Linked DNA regions of Homo sapiens: region 1 is linked to region 2. The links come from fine-mapping of genetic effects on gene expression. Tissue or cell type: prefrontal cortex. Region 2 holds a variant in brackets; the other region holds the start of a gene. All regions are shown on one strand. Distances are from middle to middle.

Region 1 (5,097 bases), 59 kb after region 2:
TCCTTCACTAAATTTTAAGCCAGCAAAGGTTTCCCAGGCCTGGCACAATGCCACTTTGCAGGCACTGCTAAAAGGAATTCTACCTCAGTTGAAGTTAAATGGGTCAAATTCCTGAGCACATGGTGGCATAGAGTGAGGCCTCAGGAAATAGTTCCAGAACCCAGGGCTTTCCTGCTCCCCGGCCTCCATGGGAACTTCACTTCACTGCCGCCACAACCTTCAGGGCAGAGCCATCTCCTCTCCCACTTCATACTGCCACTTCCTACATGAGAAGGACCTTCACCAGTCCTCAGAGACTAGCACAGCTGCCCAGCTGGTGAAGGGGACAATTCCCTGGGCAGCCAACCATTCTGCAGCTCCATGCCCTTTCTTCCTGGGGCAGCCACAAACCTTCAGAAGCACCCATGGGCTCAGACCCCCCCCACAACCCCGTCTCCCTAAATGATCCTGCTACGCTGAGATCAAGCTCAGATCAATAAACACTACTGAGCACCTATGCCATGTCCAGCCTGGGTTCTAAGACCACACCAAGTTCATAGCTGGTGAGGGACTTTCCAGACTTGGAATAGTGCCTGCAACAATGCCTCGCACCCCACAGAAATCTCAACCATGCTTTGTTAACTAAACTGAGGATGACATTAGGTGGCCCAAGCAGTGGAGTTCAGAGATGTGGGGATGGATATATCCAGAGTCTCCAACTGAAGTTGGGGTGCAACACAATGAGAAGGAAAGGGAAAATACATCTGGTGGCCCTGGGTTTCCAGGGCCTGTCACTATAACGTTAGGGATCGGAGTGGGATCAGACTGCGCGTGGTGGCTCACACCTGTAATCCCTGTGCTTTGGGAGGCTGAGGTGGGAGGATCACTTGAGCCCAGCAATTTGAGGCTATGATCACACCAGCAGCTAAGGGGATAGAAGGGCATACAGGGCCATTATGGTGGAGTCTGGGCTTCATTCTGGGGGTGCCAGGGCCCAGGAAGATCCCTGGAAAGACGGCCGCCCCCACCAACCACTCGGCTAGCTGAAATGTGGCAAGGACATAGGGGTGCTCCGATGGCCTGTCCCCAGGTTTCCCTTCACAAATAGAGAAGGGTGGCCGGAGCACTCAGCAGGCACTAACTGCTTCTGGACTTCAAGGTCAAGGGGCAAGGGGAAGGCTACTTTTGAGGATTTGGCAGGCCACTCTCTCACTAGCCCAAGAGCAACTCCCTCTCGGAAGGGAGGAAGATCCCCTGGAGAGCAGACCACTGCCAAGAGCACACCTGCAGAGGCTCCAATACAATGCTCTGCACAGCCGCCCAGCACCGCCTGACCTCCCGGATAGCAGCGCCAGCACAGCCAACGAGTGTGTGACACCGCCGCACTCACCACCGCTCTGCGCCCAGCCCCAGGCCAGTACCCGGGCCCACGACTTCCCCCGACTCCCCCTAGCACGGACTGTTTCTCGCCGGAGATCAACTTTAAGTCCCCAAGACAAGTGCTCCTGCGGTCCCAGGGCCAAAGTCCCTCCACACACCCTCACACAGGCACTTCCTACCCACCCGCACCCCACCCCTGGGGGTGGAGGAGAAGCAGCAGCGGCCCGGGACAAGCACAGTCCGCAGCCACAAACCTCACTCTACCAGAACTCCGGCTAGGTCAGGGGTCAGGCTTTGCTCCCAAACACAACCCCACACGACTAACGCGGAGAAGCTGGGTCACCGCCTACTCAAACTCCGGCCGTCCCAAACCCAAGCCGGGCAGAGTGGGACCCACGGCGGCGTGGGAGACTGAGCACAACCACGGCGGGGCAGGAGGAAGGGGCGGCCCGCCCCGGCCTACGCCCACCCCCACCCCGGACCCGATCTCCTGGGAGCCGAGGGTGGGTGACTGAGCCGAAAGGGTGGCCCATCCCCGAGCTCGCTGCTGGGGACGAGAAGCAGAGCCCCGAGCAGCAGCGGCCGTCCAGGCTCCCGTCGCCCTCACCCCGCCCGGCACGGGCGCGCACTCGCCGGGGCGCGCTGATGGGGCGAGGGCTACCGAACCAGGAGTGCCGGCCCCGGGCCCGCCGCGGCTCTCGTCCGCGCGGCGCCGGAGTTCGGCTCAGCGGGGTCCCGGCGGAGGCCTCCAACCTCTAGCGAGCAATCCTGGCAGACAAAGCCAGCGCCGCCCGCGGGGCCGCTCCTGGGCAGGCGGGGAGGGAGGCTGAGGGGCCAAACAGGGACCTAAGGAGCAGCCCTCGCCCCCGGAGAACGCTCGGGGAAGTCGGCCTCAGACAAAGAAAGGGGCAGGGCCCGACGCCCCAGCCAGGTCTCCGCGCTCTACTCACCCGCGCGCGGCGGCGGCAGCGGCGGCGCGGCCCGGCTCGGCCGAGGAAGTTAGAGCAAGTTCCGCGGCGCGGGGCGGGAGGGCGCGACTCGGGCCGTCCGAGCGGCGGGGGCGGGGCGCGGAGGGGCGCGGAGGGGCGGGGCCGGAGGCGCGGCGCCTGCCGTCTGCCGAGGAAGGGGCGCCGCTTCCCTGCGCCGCCCGGTGCGGCCCCGGGCGCCTGGGCCCGCCCTGGCCCCGCCCCTCCCCCAGCCGCCTCGCCCCTCCCCCACCGCACCCCGCCTCCCGGCCCGCGCGGCACCGGGGACCGCGAGGCCGGGTCGCCGGCCCGCCCCTTTGTCCCGCTCTGGGCGGTGCCGGAGGCTTGGGGCGGCCCCGGTCCGCGCCCTCCCAGTGGGTGCGCGGCGCAGGCCGGGCCTGGCCCGGGGCCGGGCACTTGTAGCCGCCGGGAGCGCTCTGAGCCGTTGCGCTGCGCAGACGCCGCTCTGGCCTTGTCGGAGCCGAACCTGGGAGAAGCACGAGCTGTGGGAGGCGGCGTCTCGAGGGATACACGGGATGACCGTGGAGAGCGGGCGAAGGATTAGGAAAATGGCTGTGGTGGAGATAAGAGGCGTTCCTGCCCGGCTTTGGAGCCTGGGGGCGGGGGTAGTCTTCAATCAAAAGAAGGATGGGGAAAAGGTTTTTATTTCTTTGTAAACCAAGGAGTAAGGACACGCTCCTTCTGGCCTTGGTGCTAAAAATACCAAGCTTTCTTTGGATCGTGGCTGAGATTTCTTCCTAACCTTTACGCTAAAGAGGTGGCTGGGACGATTCTTGTGGTGTAGGGGGGTTTCCAGGGACAGCCAGGGGTGGCGCCCCTCTTTGGATCGTGGCTGAGATTTGTTCCTCACCTTTACGCTAAAGAGATGGCTGGGACGATTCCTGTGGGGTAGAGGGGTTTCCAGGGATAGCCAGGGGCGGCTCCCCAGCCTCAGCCTCCCTACCTGTAGAATGAAGCATGCCACACCTCTGTTTCTTAAACTTATTCGGTGGCTGAGGGCCGAGTGGTCTTCTCTGTTGAGTAACACCAAACAGGGATCTATTAAAACTGGGCTAAGACTGGTTGCCACATGCCAGTACAAGCAACCAACAGGTTAATTCCAATGGAAGGAGGAAATCTTGAAATGGAGACTGTTCAGTCCATTCCCAGGTTTGTTTGGGTTGTTTTTTGAGCTAAGGTATCGCTTTGTCACCCAGGCTGGAGTGCAGTGGCATGACCATGGCTCACTGCAGCCTCGACCTCCCGCCTCAGCTTCCCCAAGTAGCTGGGACCACAGGTGCAGGCCACCACACCTAGCTAATTTTTTTTTTTTTTTTTTTGTAGAGACGAGATCTTGCTGTGTTGCCAGTGATGGTCTTAAATTCCTGGGCTTAAGCAATCCTTCCGCCTCTGCCTCCCAGAGTGCTGGAATTACACGCATGAGCCACGGTGCCTGGCTAATTTTATTTGTTTGTTTAATTAAGAGGGATGCAACCTGTCTGTGACAGCCCAGGCAGCTCTGGAAACTCCCTGGGAACCTGTCCATTCATTCAGCAGATAGTGAGTGTTTGTCTGAGTGCCTGATAATATGCCAGGCCCTGTGTGCATGGTGGGATACTTCAGTGAACAAGACAGCTGAGGCCTTTTGCCCAATAAAGTTAATTTTTAGTGGAGAAGACAAATACATAATCACAAGTTGAAGTAAAGGCTGGGACAAAAACAAGGGGCTAGAATAGAGAATAAAAGCTACCTTAGATGAAGCAGTCAGGGAAAGTGAGGAGGCGATGCTGAAATTGAAGTCAAAAGAGTAAGGAGTTAGCCTTGGGAAAAGTTGGGCAGAGACATTCCTCGCTGAGAGCAGTAGGTGCCTTTTCAGGGTAAGTTCTGGATGGGTCAGGGAACTGAAAGAAAATCAGTGTGGCTGAAGTTTTAAGCCTAGGGGAAGAGGCCCAGGATGGAGTGAGAAGGTGGGTGGGGGCCAAAGCATGCAGGGCCTGTGGGCTGTGTCAAAGAATGGAGACTTTGTTGAGCCTTGGAAGGGTTTTATGCAGAAGACTAACATGTTCTGATTTAAGGCTGTGTGTGGGTGTCAGGCAAAAATAAAAGCAGGGAGCCAATTAGGCTTGCCACAATCCAGGCCAAAGATGATGGTGGTTTGAACCAAAGTGGTGGTCATGCTAAGATGAGTAGTTGAGAGATGCTATTTTGGACTTAAGAGGACACATTGATAGGAAGGACATGGGGGCAGGAAATGGAGAAACCAAAGATAACTCAAGTTTCTGGCTGGGGTAAGTGGGTGGATAGTGCTTCATTTATTGGATCAAAAAGCATGAACCACATCTCAGGGAGTTACATCAGGAATTCTGTTCAAGCCACATGGAGCTTCAGATGCCTGTTAGAGAACCAGCGGGGTTATCTCATCACTAGGAACTCAGAAGAGAGGCCAGGGCGGGAGAGGGGCTTTGGGATACATCAGCATAAAGATGCTCAAGGCCACGGGATCTGAGAAGGACACACAGGGTGAGGGAGTAGATGCAGAAGAGGAGAGAGTTCAGGAGGGACCCAGGGGAACCAAAGCAGGCAAGAAGACTGAAAAAGAGACTGGGGAGGCAGAAGGAGAATCAGGAGTATCCCAGAGACTGAGAAAATGTTTCCAGAAAGCAGTTGTCAGCTGTGTTAGACACTGCTTAGAGATCAGGTAAGATGAGGACTGGGACCTGTTGGCTCTGGCAACATGAAGGCAATTGGTGAACATGATGAGGGCAGTGTTCCT
Region 2 (5,097 bases):
ATACACTGAAGTCCTAACCCCCAGGACTTCAGAAGGTGACTGTATTTGTAGACAGGCTCTTTACAGAGGTAATTATGCTAAAATGAGGCCATCAGGGTGCCCCCTAATCCAATATGAAGAGCATCCTGCTAAGAGGAGGAGATCAGGACACAGACATGCACAGAGGGGAGCCCACGTGAGGACACAGGGAGAGGACAGCCACCTGCAGCCAGGAGAGAGGCCTGGAACAGACCCTTCCATCACAGCCCTCTGAAGGCACCCACCTCACCTCGCCAGCACCTTGATCTTGGACTTCTAGCCTCCAAACTGTGAGAAAATAAATGCCTGCTGTGGCTTAAATTTCTGTCTGTGGTATGTTGTGACAGCAGCCTTAGCAAATTAATATAAGTGGCAAAAAAAATCATAATTAGGGAAGCTGATGTTGATATAGGTTCTTATCTTAGTCCATTCAGGCAACTAGAATAAAATACTATAGATTAGGTGGCTTATAAACAACAGAAATTTATTTCTCACAGTCCTGGAGGCCGGGAAGTTCAAGATCAGGACACTGGCAAATTCAGTGTCGGATGAGGGCCCACTTTCTGGTTCATGGATGGCACCCTCTCACTGTGTCTTCACACAGTGGAGTGACAAATAAGCTCTCTGGGCCTCTTACATAAGGACACTCATCCCACTCATAAGGACTCTGCCCTCATGACCCAATCCCCTCCCCAAGACCCCACCTCTTAAATACCATCACATTGGAGTTTAAGTTCCAACATGTGAATTTTGGAGAGACACACACATTCAGTTTACAGCACTTTCTCCCTGTGAAATGCAGGTCCCTAAAGGAGGACAGTTCCCCAAGCTGTAGGGACACATCCCTCATATCCACGGCTAACAGGTGGGGTCTCTGAAGATTCCTCGAGACTCCTCCCTTTTAGAACAGCAGTCATTCATATCACCAAAGACCACTAGAACAAGGACTGGAGTGGGGTGGGGTCTTCCTTCTCTTTGCATCTAAGAGCACACTCCCTACAGCCTAAAGGAAGTCCTGGAGGACAGAGCCTCGCCCCTGCCCCAGGCCTGCCTCCCTCTTTGTCACTACTGCCTCCACACGGAGGCCAGAACAAGGCACCTACACTCCTGCAGCTGTCCCCTTAACGAGAGACGTCTTCTGGGATGCCAAGGAGCCTCCTAAAAATGCAGTCTTTGTCCCTCAAAACTTCCATCCCACCTCTTTAAATGCAGCAACTCCTAGATGTTGGGACTGCAGCTCACAAGGCTTAGAATCACCATTACTGCTCCCAGGAGTCCTGCCGCCAGCTCAGGAAGCAGTGTATGTGACCCTGTGCCTATGCTCAGCTTAGGTGGCATCAAGAGCTTCACTGCCCTGAGTTTTCCCACTTCAATTTGCACTCGTGCTAAATCAGAATGTTGAACCACAGGGAATAAAACCTAAAGAACTCTTCAAGTTGTATACATGGGAGTTCTCACCTGAATCCTGACATCATATCCACACTGTGTGTTCACAACTTTTTGCTGCAAGAAAAGCAGAAAAATTAGTTGCTTCTGGCGTCTCAAGAAGCTGGTGCTAAGAGGCTCTAGTAAAGTCACAACCAAACACTAGCAAACATTTGTGCAAATTCCATTACAGCTCATGTCCTTCAATCATGCCACCAACTAATCCTTCAGACCAGGACAGGGTGGCAAACTTTCTCTGTGAAGGGCTAGAGAGTGAGTACTTCAGACACAGACTCAATTCCGCTTTTGTTGCATGAGAGCCGGCACTGACAATCTGTAAACAAACAGGAATGGCTGTATTTCAAGAAAACTTTATGGACACTGAAATTTGAATTTCATATAATTTTCACGTACCACAAAATATTATTCTTCTTTTGATTTATTTCCAACCATTTAAAAACATCTGAATGCATTCTTAACTCACAGGTCATGGAAAAATAGCAAGCCAGATTTGGCCTGGGGGCCACAGTTTGCTAGGAGGTAAGACCTATACTTGGAGGTAAGAACTATATGTGCTAAAAGCAACACTTACAAGACTGGTACATTTCACAGTCGCAGTGGAGACCTCAGAAGAGCTGTGCAGCTTCAGCAAATCTGAGCCTCTCCTGGGCTGCAGAACTTGCCCATATAATAGTGGTGATGCTCTGCCTTCTCAAAGCCTGTAACCCAGGACCAGGCTTTGCATAACTGCACCGAGAGCTGGCAACTGGCCCAGTTCTACTCAGGCTCAGTTCAGGCAAAATTCAGAGCTCCTTCACAGTTCACCCCAAGAACCCAGCTTCTGGAACCCAAGGACGTTGGCCTTGGATTGGGAATGCCAATAGGTAAAGAAAGGACAGGACAGGCACAGCGGCCCACACCTGTAATCCCAGCACTTTGGGAGGCTAAGATGGGCAGATCGCTTTGAGCCCAGGAGTTTAAGACCAGCCGGGGCAACATGGTGAAACCCCATCTCTACAAAAAATACAAAAATTAGCCAGGTGTGGTGCTCAAGCCTGTGGTCCCAGCTACTTGGGAGGTTGAGGCTGGAGAATTGCTTGAGCCCGGGGAAGCAATGGTTGTACAGTGAGCTGAGATCGCACCACTGCACTCCAGCCTGAGTGACAGAGTGAGACACTGTCTCTAAAATAAAACCAAACAACAACAACAACAA[CAACAACAACAAA/A]CAGAAAATAATTAGCCGGGTGTGGTGGCGTGCACCTGTAATCCCAGCTACTCAGGAGGCTGAGGCAGGAGAATCGCTTGAACCCAGGAGACAGAGGTTCCAGTGAGCCAAGATCATGCCACTACACTCCAGCCTGGGCGACACAGCAAGACCCTGTCTCAAAAATAAAAGAAAGAGAAAAAGAAAGAAAATAATTCTCCACTACTGTTCCCCAGTTAATGATGTGTACCCACAGCCCCCGTGCACTGTTGAGTTCTAGGAATCTGCTCCAGAAAAAGGACAGGGAAGAGGGATAAGCGGGCCTTATTTCACTCATAGCTCTTGGCCAGCTGCAAGTGACAGCCCTCCAGGTAGAAATAATACTGTTTTTCTCCTGCCTCACCCAGAACACCAAGGCCAGGGTGGGTCATGCAAGCAGTGTTCCTAGAATGTACACATATCGGATTTCAGAGCTGAGGCAGCCTTGAGGAGGGTGTGGAGAAAGCACACCTGCTCCTCAGACCTCCATGACAGAGAAGTATCCTAGAGCACTGGAGGAGTCAGGAAAGCTTCTGGGCTTCAGGAAGGGCGGGCTCCCTGTGCCCCAGCACAAGCCAACTCACCGCAGGATCTGGCACGCAGCAGGAGAAGGGGACCCCGCACTTCTCTCGGCTGTAGCTGGCACCGCTGCAATTGAAGTAGACGTTGAGGTCCCAGTCTTCAGGGCCATATGCGCCACAGCACTGGTTCTGCAACCACAAAAGCCAGAACTGTTAGGGGCTCCAAGACAGGGCCATGGCTGCCCAGCATAGGGCATCATTCATAGTGATGCCAGGCTAAGTCTGCCGGCATCTACCATGCAGAGAAATCAAGGCCCGCCCCCTACCTCCCATGTGCAGAGATGCTAAGCTGGCAACCCAGGCAGCCCTTTAAGAAGAAAACAGCTAGGCGTAGTAGCTCAGGCCTGTAACCTCAGTGACTCGGGAGGTTGAGGTGGGAAGATGGTTTGAGCCCAGGAGTTGGAAACAAGTCTGGGCAACACAGCAAGACCCCCACCCCCAATCAGAAAGAAAGAAAGGAAAGAGAGAGAGAAAGAGAAAAGGAGAGAAAGAAAAAAGGGGAGAGAGAGAGAGAGAGAGAGAGAGAGAGAGAGAGAGAGAGAGAGAGAGAGAGAGAGAGAGGACCTGCCCTTTTGATGTGTTAAAGAAAATAATAACAAAAAGGAAATGGCAGTGAAGGTATCTCCGGGCCACGGTGCCTCCTCTGTCCAACCCACATGGCTGGCTCAGTGGAGCCCTCTGGCCCCACTGCCAGGCACAACATACCCAGCCCTGGCCCTCCTTAGCAGGGAGCTTGCTCTTCTTCCCAGCCTCCTCAAAGGAGACGCCTCCTTCCAGCCTCCTCAGACAGGAGAGTGGCGTCCTCTCCTTTGTGGCCCCCTCGGCACCTTGGTGTGGTCCTCTACTTGCCACAAGAGAACACTTCCTAGTGTGCAGTGTTCTTCCTCCCTGAGAAACTTGCAAGTGAATTCCCCTTTTCACCCCTTTACAAAAAACAGCTGCTAAGTGTCTGCTCCTGAGGAAAAGAGGTCCGATGAAGGTGAAAGGTAACACAATCAAAGCTCTGCCCCACACCTGGGGCCTCTGCCCTCCCCTTCCTCGCATCTGGTGTGGCTACAAAGAAAATCCTTATTTGACTAAAAAGTGTGTAAAATCCAAACACTGAAAGCATCATTGTGAAGTTGACAGTGTCTTTTCCCCTAAAAAACTTCTTTGCATTTGCCCTTACAGCTGACATGGTTATGGCAATAATCACAACAAATGACAACAGTGATTTCTGGTTGGTTATTTTGTTTTGCTTACTTCTCAGGTAAAATTGTCTCCCCCACACCTCCACGGTTCCACTTGCTTTAGTGATTACCTGAAATTTCACTCCAAGGAAGCTCTGTAATTTACTGAATCCCTCCCCTGGGAAGTTTTGTTTTGTTTTGTTTTAATTTATTTATTTTATCTTTTTTTTGAGACGGAGTCTTGCTCTGTTGACCAGGCTGGACTGCAGTGGCGTGATCTCGGCTCACTGCCAGTTCCGCCTCCCGGGTTCACACCATTCTCCTGCCTCAGCCTCCCGAGTAGCTGGGACTACAGGTGCCCACCGCCACACCCCACTAATTTTTTGTATTTTTAGTAGAGATGGGGTTTCACCATGTTAGCCAGGATGGTCTCGATCTCCTGACCTTGTGATCCACCCGCCTCAGCCTCCCAAAGTGCTGGGATTACAGGCGTGAGTCACCGCGCCCGGCCAGAAGTTTTATTTTTAAAAGAAAAAGAAGTCAATGCAGAAAACTATGTTTTTAAGGCAATGCAGGGATGAACCGCAACCTAGCATGCTGAGACCAGGCAAGCCAAGGCTACGTGAAAATGAAAAAAGGACGGTGGCACTGAACAGAAAAG

Alleles and levels. Alleles are on the strand shown, and positions count from the first base shown. SD is a standard deviation of normalised expression in the study named.
For the expression in prefrontal cortex of the gene that starts at base 2,371 in region 1, allele A in region 2 goes with a higher level than allele CAACAACAACAAA (moderate effect, 0.45 SD a copy in CommonMind).

Evidence for each region. PIP is the estimated chance that this variant, and not a neighbour inherited with it, causes the effect.
Region 1: TSPAN14 starts here. The variant in region 2 is fine-mapped to the expression of TSPAN14 in prefrontal cortex (CommonMind, PIP 0.95).

The regions. Positions count from the first base shown.
Region 1 is chr10:80,451,584-80,456,680 of GRCh38, reverse strand. It overlaps TSPAN14 (tetraspanin 14), which reads right to left and starts at 2,371. Exons shown (of 9, transcript NM_030927.4): 1 at 2,310-2,371. RefSeq lists enhancers at 1,256-1,305, 1,336-1,595, 1,545-2,062, 2,806-3,015 and a silencer at 1,726-2,775.
Region 2 is chr10:80,510,443-80,515,539 of GRCh38, reverse strand. It overlaps TSPAN14 (tetraspanin 14), which reads right to left. Exons shown (of 9, transcript NM_030927.4): 6 at 3,271-3,396; 7 at 1,477-1,521. Among named protein-coding and RNA genes, the nearest start is that of TSPAN14-AS1, 23 kb to the left of the region's middle. The variant CAACAACAACAAA/A (reference allele first, on the strand shown) is at 2,657.